2 linked regions of the Homo sapiens genome follow. The protein of the gene in region 1 interacts with the protein of each later gene in a pairwise test. Each region holds a gene or a part of one and is shown on either strand. Other genes may lie near its edges.

Region 1 (5,311 bases):
AAATATTGTGTTTGGAGGCAAATAGACCACCTTTTTTTTTTTTTTTTTTTTTTGAGACAGAATTTCACTCTTGTTGCCTAGGCTGGAATGCAATGGCACGATCTCAGCTCACTGCAACCTCCACCTCCCAGGTTCAAGCAATTCTCCTGCCTCAGCCTCCTGATTAGCTGGGATTACAGGCATGTGCCACCACGCCCGGCGAATTTTGTATTTTTAGTAGAGACTGGGTTTCTCCGTGTTGGTCAGGCTGGTCTGGAACTCCCAACTTCAGGTGATCCCCCGACCTCGGCCTCCCAAGTGCTGGGATTACAGGCATGAGCCACTGGGCCCAGCCGCAAATAGACTTTTTAATTTGCCTTTGGTGCTGAACTCATGGGGCTCTGGGTGGCCAGAGTATTGTCCAACATCAAAAGAACTTTAAAAGGTAGTCTCTTACTGGCAAGGTACTTCCTGACTTCAGGGACAAAGCATTGATGGAACCAATCCAGAAAAAGGGTTCTTGTTGTCTAAGCCTTCTTATTGCACAACCTAAACACTGGCAGCTGGTGTTTATCTTTGCTCTTCGAGGCTGGAGGTTAACAGCTTTATAGACAAGGGCAGTTCTGATGACAAACTTGACTCAAACTCCTGGGCTCTGGTAATCGTCCCACCTCTGCCTCCCAAAGTGCTGGGTTTTTTTGCACAAAAGAGTAGAGTTAGCCTGTCTCTTCTTGCCTTCAATGTTGGTACTTGCTTCTCTTCCTATTTTTTTTTTTCCTTTTTAAAAACTGAAATAGGGTCTTATTCTGTTGCCCAGGCTACAGTTCAGTGGTGCACTCATGGCTAACTGCAGCCTCAATCTTCCAGGCTCAAGCAATCCTCCCACCTCAGACTCCTGAGTAGCAGGAACAACAGGTGTGTGCCACCACACCCAGCTAATTTTTGTACTTTTTGTAGAGACAGAGTTTCCCATGTTGCCCAGGTTGGTCTTCCTTACTATTAATGTCCTTTGTGGCTTTTTTTTTCCAGAGTAGGGTACCTTAATCTGCATTAAACACCTGTTCAGGCAGATATCCTTTCTCTTCAATGATTTTCTTAACGGTGTCTGAGAATTCATCTGCTGCCTCTTGGTCAGCATAAGCTGCTTCTCCTGTATCTTGTTTTTTTTTTTTTTGAGACAGGGTCTCACTCTGTCACCCAGGCTGGAGTGCAGTGGGGGGATCTCGGCTCATGCAACCTCCGCCTCCCAGGCTCAAGCGATTCTCCTGCCTCAGCCTCCCAAGTAGCTGGGATTATAGGCATGGACCACTACCACCTAGCTAGTTTTTGTATTTTTTGTAGAGACGGGGTTTCACCATGTTGGCCAGGCTGGTCATAAACTCTTGACCTCAAATGATCCACCCGCCTTGGACTGCCAAAGTGCTGGGATTACGGGCAACACTGCGCCCAGCCTGTCTTGACATTTTTTAAGCCAAACCTCTTTCTAAAATCAGCAAACCATCATTTGTTGTCATTAAATACTCCAGCTTTAGATCCTTCACCTTCTTTTTGCTTTAAGTTGCCATATAATGACTTTGCTTTTTCTCAAATCATATTAGAGTCAATAGGTATGCCTTTTTATAGTACCCATGTAAAAGCTACATATTATGCACATAAAAAGGCATTTGGCAAAAAGTGCAAGGTTTTTGCACCTGTTGGCATAGCTACAGTGACAACTTCATGAATTTTCTTTTTTTTTTCTTTTTCTGTTTTTTTTTTTTTTTTACGCAATTGGTCCTTACGCTGGATTTATCTTTAAAAAAATTTTTTTTTGTAGAGACAGGGTCTTACTTTGTTGCCCAGGCTGGTCTCAATCTACTGGGCTCAATCAGTCCTCCTGCCTCAGACTCTCAAAATGGATTCATCTGGCCAGGCCAGAGCAAGACACCGTCTCAAAAAAAAAAAAAAAAAAAAGGGTTCATTTATCTTGAAACGACAAGCAACTACCTGTGTAGACCTCAGTCTACAGTACATATCAAGCAATTCAATTTTTTCTTGTAATGTCATGAGCATTCTCTGCTTCTTGGGAACACTTCCAGCATCACCAATGGCACCTTGTATGGGTTTCATGGTGTTATTCTAGGTTTATGATATTGTACTAAATACCAGGAAAAATATGCAAGAGTTGTAAGAGATTAATTTTTTTTTTTTTGAGACCAAGTCTCGCTCTGTCTCCCAGGCTGGAGTGCAATGGCGTGATCTTGGCTTACTGCAACTCCGTCTCCCAGGTTCAAGCGATTCTCCTGCCTCAGCCTCCCAAGTAGCTGGGATTACAGGCATGCGCCCACCATGCCCAGCTAAGTTTTTTGTATTTTTAGTAGAGACAGGGTTTCACCATGTTGGCTAGGCTGGTCTCGAACTCCTGACCTCAAGTGATCCACCCACCTCGGCCTCCTAAAGTGCTGGGATTACAGGTGTGAGCCACCGCGCCCAGCTGAGAAACTACGTTATACTGCGATACGCAATACACTGGAGAGACGTACTGCTCACTGAAGATGATTAATGTTGCACGGCATTTTAAGTGGATACTCACAATACTTGAGTTCACCTCCATAGCAACAGGAGGTGGCCACAAAATTATTAGTAATGTTATATACTACAGTTAATTTTTATGCAGTTATGATTTAATATGGCATCTTTACATTTGTTTACATTTCTCCCTTCTGCAAATGGCAGCATGTGTGGTCTATAGGTGTTTGTGTGCAGAAGTTTTTTATTTTTTTATTTTTATTTTTATTTTTTATTTTTGTTTTTTAAGACAGAGTCTCGCTTTGTCTCCCAGGCTGGAGTACAGTGGTGCAATCTCAGCGCACTGCAACCTCCACCTCCCGGGTTCAAGTGATTCTCTTGCTTCAGCCTCCCCTAGTAGCTGAGACTACAGGTGCACACCACCATGCCCAGGTAATTTTTGTATTTTTAGTAGAGACGGGGTTTTACCATGTTGGCCAGGGTGGTCTTGAACTCCCGACCTCAGGTAATCTGCCCGCCTCAGCCTCCCAAAGTGCTGAGATTACAAGCGTGAGCCACCATGCCTGGCCAGAAGCTTTTTAGACAGGGTCTCACTCTGTTTCCAGGCTGCAGTACAGTGGCATGGTCTTAGCTCACTGCAGCCTCAAACTCCCAGGCTCAATTGATCCTCCCACCTCAGCCCCCTCAAGTAACTGGTATTTTTTGTAGAGAAGGGGTTTCACCATGTTGCCCAGATTGGTCTCAACCTCCTGGGCTCAAGTGATCTGCCCGCCTCAACCTACCAAAGTGCTGGGATTACAGGCATGAGCCACCGCACCCAGCCAGTGTGCAGAAGTTTTGATAAATTTTAACTTGTAGATTTCTGTATGTTTTATGGTAGTAAATGATAATATAGACTAATACCTACATATATTTTTACACTTGTAACATACCAATTTTTTAAGTTTTTTGATATTTCTAGGCTATGCTGTTCATCTGCAAGTTTTTTGAAACTGCTTGAAATCTCCAAAACAGTTTCCAATGCATTTATTACTGAAAAAAATCCACATATAAGTGGACCTGTGCAGTTCAAACCCATGTTGTTTGGCCGGGCGTGGTGGCTCACATCTGTAATCCCAGCACTTTGGGAGGCCGAGGCAGGTGGATCGCCTGAGGTTGGGAGCTCAAGACCAGCCTGGCCAACATGGTGAAACCCCGTCTCTACTAAAAACTACAAAAATTAGCCGGCAATGGTGGCACATGCCTGTAATCTCAGCTACGTGGGAGGCTGAGGCTTGACAAGAATTGCTTGAACCTGGGAGGTGGAGGTTGCAATGAATGAAGATCGCACCACTGCACTCCCGCCTGGGTGACAAAGCAAGACTCTGTCTCAAAAAAGAAAAAAAAAGGCCGGGCGCGGTGGCTCACGCCTGTAATCCCAGCACTTTGGGAGGCCGAGGCGGGTGGATCATGAGATCAGGAGATTGAGACCATCCTGGCTAACACGGTGAAACCCCGTCTCTACTAAAAATACAAAAAAATTAGCCAGGCGTGGTGGCGGGTGCCTGTAGTCCCAGCTACTCGGGAGGCTGAGGCAGGAGAATGGCGTGAGCCCAGGAGGTGGAGCTTGCAGTGAGCCGAGATCGTGCCACTGCACTCCAGCCTGGGCGAGAGAGTGAGACTCCATCTCAAAAAGAAAAAAAAAAAAAGAAAAAAAACCCATGTTGTTCAAGGCTCAACTATAAATGTTAGCCATTATTATTGCTGTTGTTGTAATTAGGCAACTATTCAGTTCTTGCTCTGCCTTGGTATAGCCCTTCACCTGAAATTAACGTTAAGTTGATAGCTGAAAAGTGTTTTACCACCATAAATGACCTAAAACCATGTCTTGTACCTGGCAGCTGCTTCTTTCTTCCCATCTTCCAGTGTCCTCCAATGAATATGATCTCCAAAACCTGGAAGGAAAGAACTTTATAAGCATTCACATAATGAACAAAGGGCACAGTCCCAAGAAGGAAGTGTGCATGTTCACAAGATACCCACTAAGAAGGTTTTCTTCTGTCAAGAGCTTGGTGTTCAAGTCCCAGCTCCACCACCTTCTAGGTGTATGGGACCATACCTCAAGCCTCAGTTTTCATACCTGCAAAATGGAGACACCACCACCTAATTCACAGTTTCAAAGGAGGCTAAATTTAAAAATGACGTTAAATGCTTTGTAAACTATCACGGAATATGCTAATAATACTGTAAGAATGAACGAGAATTTCCCACAGAGTAAACATAAAGCAGGTCATAACAAATCATAACCAATTGAAGGTGATTCAGCAATACAGCTTTAGATTCAGAAAGACCTAGGTCCATGACTCCACTTCCTATTACGTGTGTGAATTCTTGTGAGTGAAGTAAGCTCTCCAAGTCCCAATTTCTTTCTTATTTTCCTCCTTCATCTGTAAAAGCAAGACAATAAGACCTACCTCCAAGTGTTAGTATAAGGATTAAATGAAGTAAGTATTTAAAGCTATTGTTATTATTATTCCCACAATTCACCCAGAGTAATCTTCCTATTTTATTTTTTGAAACTCTTGAACATGTTTTGTAGAATAGCACAGAATGGTCTTTCTAAATCATGTTACTCCAGGAAAAAAACAAAAAACAAAAACAAAAAAACTTTCAAAGGCTTTCCAATGCCCTAAAGATAAAGGTCCAACTCTTGCAGTAGGGTTTACAAAGCCTTTCAGAATATGGCACCTGCCCACCTCTCCAGCCTCACTTTCCACATTTTTCCTAAAATCTTATATATACACCCTATACTATACTTTCACTTTTTTTTTTTTTTTTGAGATAG
Region 2 (3,917 bases), on another chromosome or scaffold:
ATAGTTCTCCAGACACACAATGGCCTCAGCAGGGCAGAAAACAAAGATGCTGGTATCAAACATCTGCTTCATCCTCCCTGGGTTTCTAATCACAGGAAGACCATATTCATCCATAGGTGGAAGGCAGTAGGGAAAACCCTATCAACTGTCTCATCACCTAAGATGAGGAGGCTTCTTCCTCCTTATGCTCCTGAGTCCCCTTCTCCCAAGTCTGGACCCTCACCTGGACCCCGGTGTCGCTTTTCCATCCAGATGTAACAATTGCTCTGGGCTACTCCGGTCTGTGAGTCCAAGAAAGGCAGGCGCACGCTGCGCTCAGCACAGAGGCGAGCATTGTAATTGTGGCACTGCTCCATGGCATCTTTGTAGTACTGCTCCCCAAGGCTGCAGGGAAGATAGAAATCAGGCGTGTATGTTGGAGCGGGGGGCATAGGGTGCTGAGCTATTCCTCTCCCCTGCCATCTGCTTCTCTAGAAGGCTCAAGGGACTGGGTGGCTGTCTCTTCCGTTCTATTTGCCTCCACTTCTGCCTCATGGGACACGAAGCCCCTTTTCTAGGCCATCATGAGGAATTACTTTACAAATAAATTACCATCAGGAACACATGATTTCATCATATGTCTAATCAGACTTAAGTTTAACCCCCAAAGAGGTGAAAGAATGTTCACTCCACGTGTCTCACAAGCCCACCCCTGTGCTAGTTAAGATGCTATTTCTCTTAACCCTTATGAGGCTAAGAAGCAGATGATAGTCCCTCCTAAGTTCCTCCTTATTCCCTCTTTCCTAGAATCACCTCCCAAATAAACTACATGCTCCCACATCCTTGCCCCAAGGTCTGCTCCAGAGGGAAAGAGTTCAAAGTCTAGGGGACTTATTAAAATGTATTTAGCAAACTATGGTAAATCCATACAATGAAATTCTACTTAGCCATAAGAAGGAAGCTCTTCACATACTGATATTAAACAATTTCAAGTTAACTAGGGACAAAAAGCAAAGCAAGGTACACTGCTGAGAAGCGTCAAATAAAACTATCATTTATGTAACAAAATGGAAAAGAAACTGCAGGTCAGCGGGGAGAAAAAGTGGGTGACTAGGCCACTTCCTTCCATATGCCTTTTTATATCTTTTGAATTTTGAACTAGGTTTTTAATCAACTAATTAATTTTACATTTATGGAAGATGTCTACAAGTACCTGAAGTTCCTTGAAGCTTTTATTGAGCACCATCACTCATAAGAAACTTGTTTGCTCTAAGGCCCATCTTAGGGTTCTTCTCCATTCTCACAAAATAAAATTATATAGGAAAAAATCTTCTTGGTCTCAAAAGACTCAATTTGAAATCTGAATCAAGGGTAAATCTTTAAGTGGAAAACTGGAAAACTGCACAGTGCCAGGAGTTATCTGGTTCTAAGAAGCGTGTATATAGAACCTATCTTGTTCTCATCTTGCAGGGTTTAACAAGGACTTTGGTAATGGAGGTTAACAAACTCGATCTTATATTCAATCAATCTTGTTTTTTTTTTTTTTTAAGAGACAAGGTCTCACTATGTTGCCCAAGCTGGACACAAACTCCTGGCTCAAGTGATCCTCCTGCCTTAGCCTCCCAAGTATCTGGGAATAGAGGCATGTGTCACAGTACCTGGCGTCAATCAATCTTAAACCAAGGGCAGAATTGATTTATTTCTCATAGTATCCCTAATACTCATGACGATGTCTGAGATACAGTCAGACTTGACTTGAGAGTAAAAAGACCTGGCTTGCCTGCAAGTCACACGAACATGGACACTTAGTCAGCCCAGGTGGACCTTGGTTACTCTTCTATAGATTGAGGAGGTTGGACCAAATGAGCTTTGACATATCAGGATTTTACAAGAAACAGCCTGGGGATGAGACAGCAAACAGATTAAGTCTCTGTGGTTTCTGTCCGTAACTCGGGCTACACCAACAAACCCTGCTCTAGAATGTGACAGGGTCCTTCAGTGAGCAGCCACAATAGACCACTGCATAACTTAGCATGTGCCCAGCAAGTAAAAAAGACACATACGACACACAGAGACGGCAATGCCACAAATATAGCCTGGCGTGATTCAATGAGCTGTAATGACTGTAATCTGAGGTAGGCACGAATCTCACGTTGGAGAGCAGAATGGAGAAGGCAGCCTTGCCTCTGTGGGCTCGCCTTTAGGAGGCAGCCACGTCTTCACCACACAGAATAAAATTGGATAAACAAGGTTGAGTGCGGCAGCTCCTTTGTTTCTGCTGATGGGAATTGATACGGACACTGGAAGTCAAATGGAAGGCAGGGCCAGGCTGGCGAGTGCTGCAAAGTCAGAGCAAGGAGGCTGGAAACAGTTTTGCGGGGAATGAATGAGAGATGTTCTGTCAGGGCTCTTGTGAGCTACATAAGGCAGGCAAACAGTCTTGGGGGTAAAAGGGCTGGGAAGGAAACACTGAAGTGTGGGGGGAGAATCTCATGAAGAGAGAACAAGACAGCATGACAGTGAGCTCTTAAGAACTTAAGGGAGGCCGGGCACAGTAGCTCATGCTTATAATCCCAGCACTTTGGGAGGCCAAGGCTGGTGGATCTCTTGAGACCAAGAGTTAGAGACCAGCTTGGGCAACATAGTGAGATCCCATCTCTACAAAACGTTAAAAAATAAAAATAAAAAAGGCCTGGCGCAGTGGCTCACGCCTGTAATCCCAGCACTTTGGGAGACTGAGGTGGACGGATCACCTGAGGTCAGGAGTTCGAGACCAGCCTCAACATGGAGAAACCCTGTCTCTACTAAAAATACAAAATTAGCCGGGCGTGGTGGTACATGACCATAATCCCAGCTACGGGGGAGGCTGAGGCAGAAGAATTGCTTGAACCTGGGAGGCGGAGGTTGCGGTGAGCCGAGATTGCGCCATTGCACTCCAGCCTGGGCAACAAGAGCGAAACTCTGTCTCAAAAAAAATAAAATTAAAAAAAACAAAACAAACAAACAAAAAAACCATCAGCTAGGCTTAGTGATGCATGCCTGTGGTTCCACGTAGCCCCTGGGGCGGATGAGGTAGGGGAATCATTTGAGCCTAGGAAGTTGAGGGTGCAGTAAACCAAGGTTATACCACTGCACTTCAGCCTGGGGGACAGAGGGAGGCTCTGTCTCTTAAAACAAAAAAAAGCAATAACAAAAACTTAAGGCTCCGATACCAAGAAATGTCAAGTTAACATTAACATTGTTCTCTCTCTCTCTCTCTCTCTCTCTCTCTCTCTCTCTCTCTCTATATATATATATATATATATATATATATATTTTTTTTTTTTTTTTTTTTTTTGAGATAGAGTCTTGCTTTGCCGCCCAGGTTAGAATGCAGTGGTGCAATCTCGGCTCACTGCAGCTTCTGCCTACTGCAGCTTCTGCCTCCCGGGTTCCAACGATTCTCTTGCCTCAGGCTCCCGAGTGGCATGCGCCACCACGCCCAGCTAATTTTTGTATTCTTAGTAGAGACAGGGTTTCACCATGTTGGCCAAGCTGGTCTCGAACTCCTGACCTCATGATCCGCCCACCTCGGCCTTCCAAAGTTCTGGGATTACAGGTGTAAGCCACCGCGCCCTGCCTCTAGATTTTGCCTAGAAAGTTTCAAAACCAATCAGCAGCTACAGCTATACTATTATTTTACTTTCCTAGTAAGAACGCTTAAAGACTTTCTCTCTTTTTTTGAGACGGAGTCTCGCTCTGTCGCCTGGGCTGGAGTGCAGTGGTGTGATCTCTCCTGGGTTCAAGCGATTCTTCTGCCTCAGCCTCCTGAGTAGCTGGGACTACAGGTGCACGCCACCATGCCCAGCTAATTTTTGTATTTTTACTAGAGACGGGTTTCACCACCTTGGCCAGGCTGGTCTCAAACTCCTGACCTTGTGATCCGCCCGCCTCAGCCT

Evidence for each region. The genes of interacting proteins can lie anywhere in the genome.
Region 2: the proteins of TXNDC12 (region 1) and DPF2 interact in binary tests that used the Homo sapiens proteins (3 or more experiments, as listed by UniProt).

What each region holds. Positions count from the first base shown.
Region 1 is NC_000001.11:52,037,177-52,042,487, forward strand, and holds part of TXNDC12 (thioredoxin domain-containing protein 12 precursor), read right to left. Parts: intron 4,422-5,311; coding exon 4,361-4,421; intron 1-4,360. UniProt on the Homo sapiens protein: Protein-disulfide reductase of the endoplasmic reticulum that promotes disulfide bond formation in client proteins through its thiol-disulfide oxidase activity.
Region 2 is NC_000011.10:65,336,852-65,340,768, reverse strand, and holds part of DPF2 (zinc finger protein ubi-d4), read right to left. Parts: intron 385-3,917; coding exon 224-384; intron 1-223. UniProt on the Homo sapiens protein: Plays an active role in transcriptional regulation by binding modified histones H3 and H4. Is a negative regulator of myeloid differentiation of hematopoietic progenitor cells. Might also have a role in the development and maturation of lymphoid cells.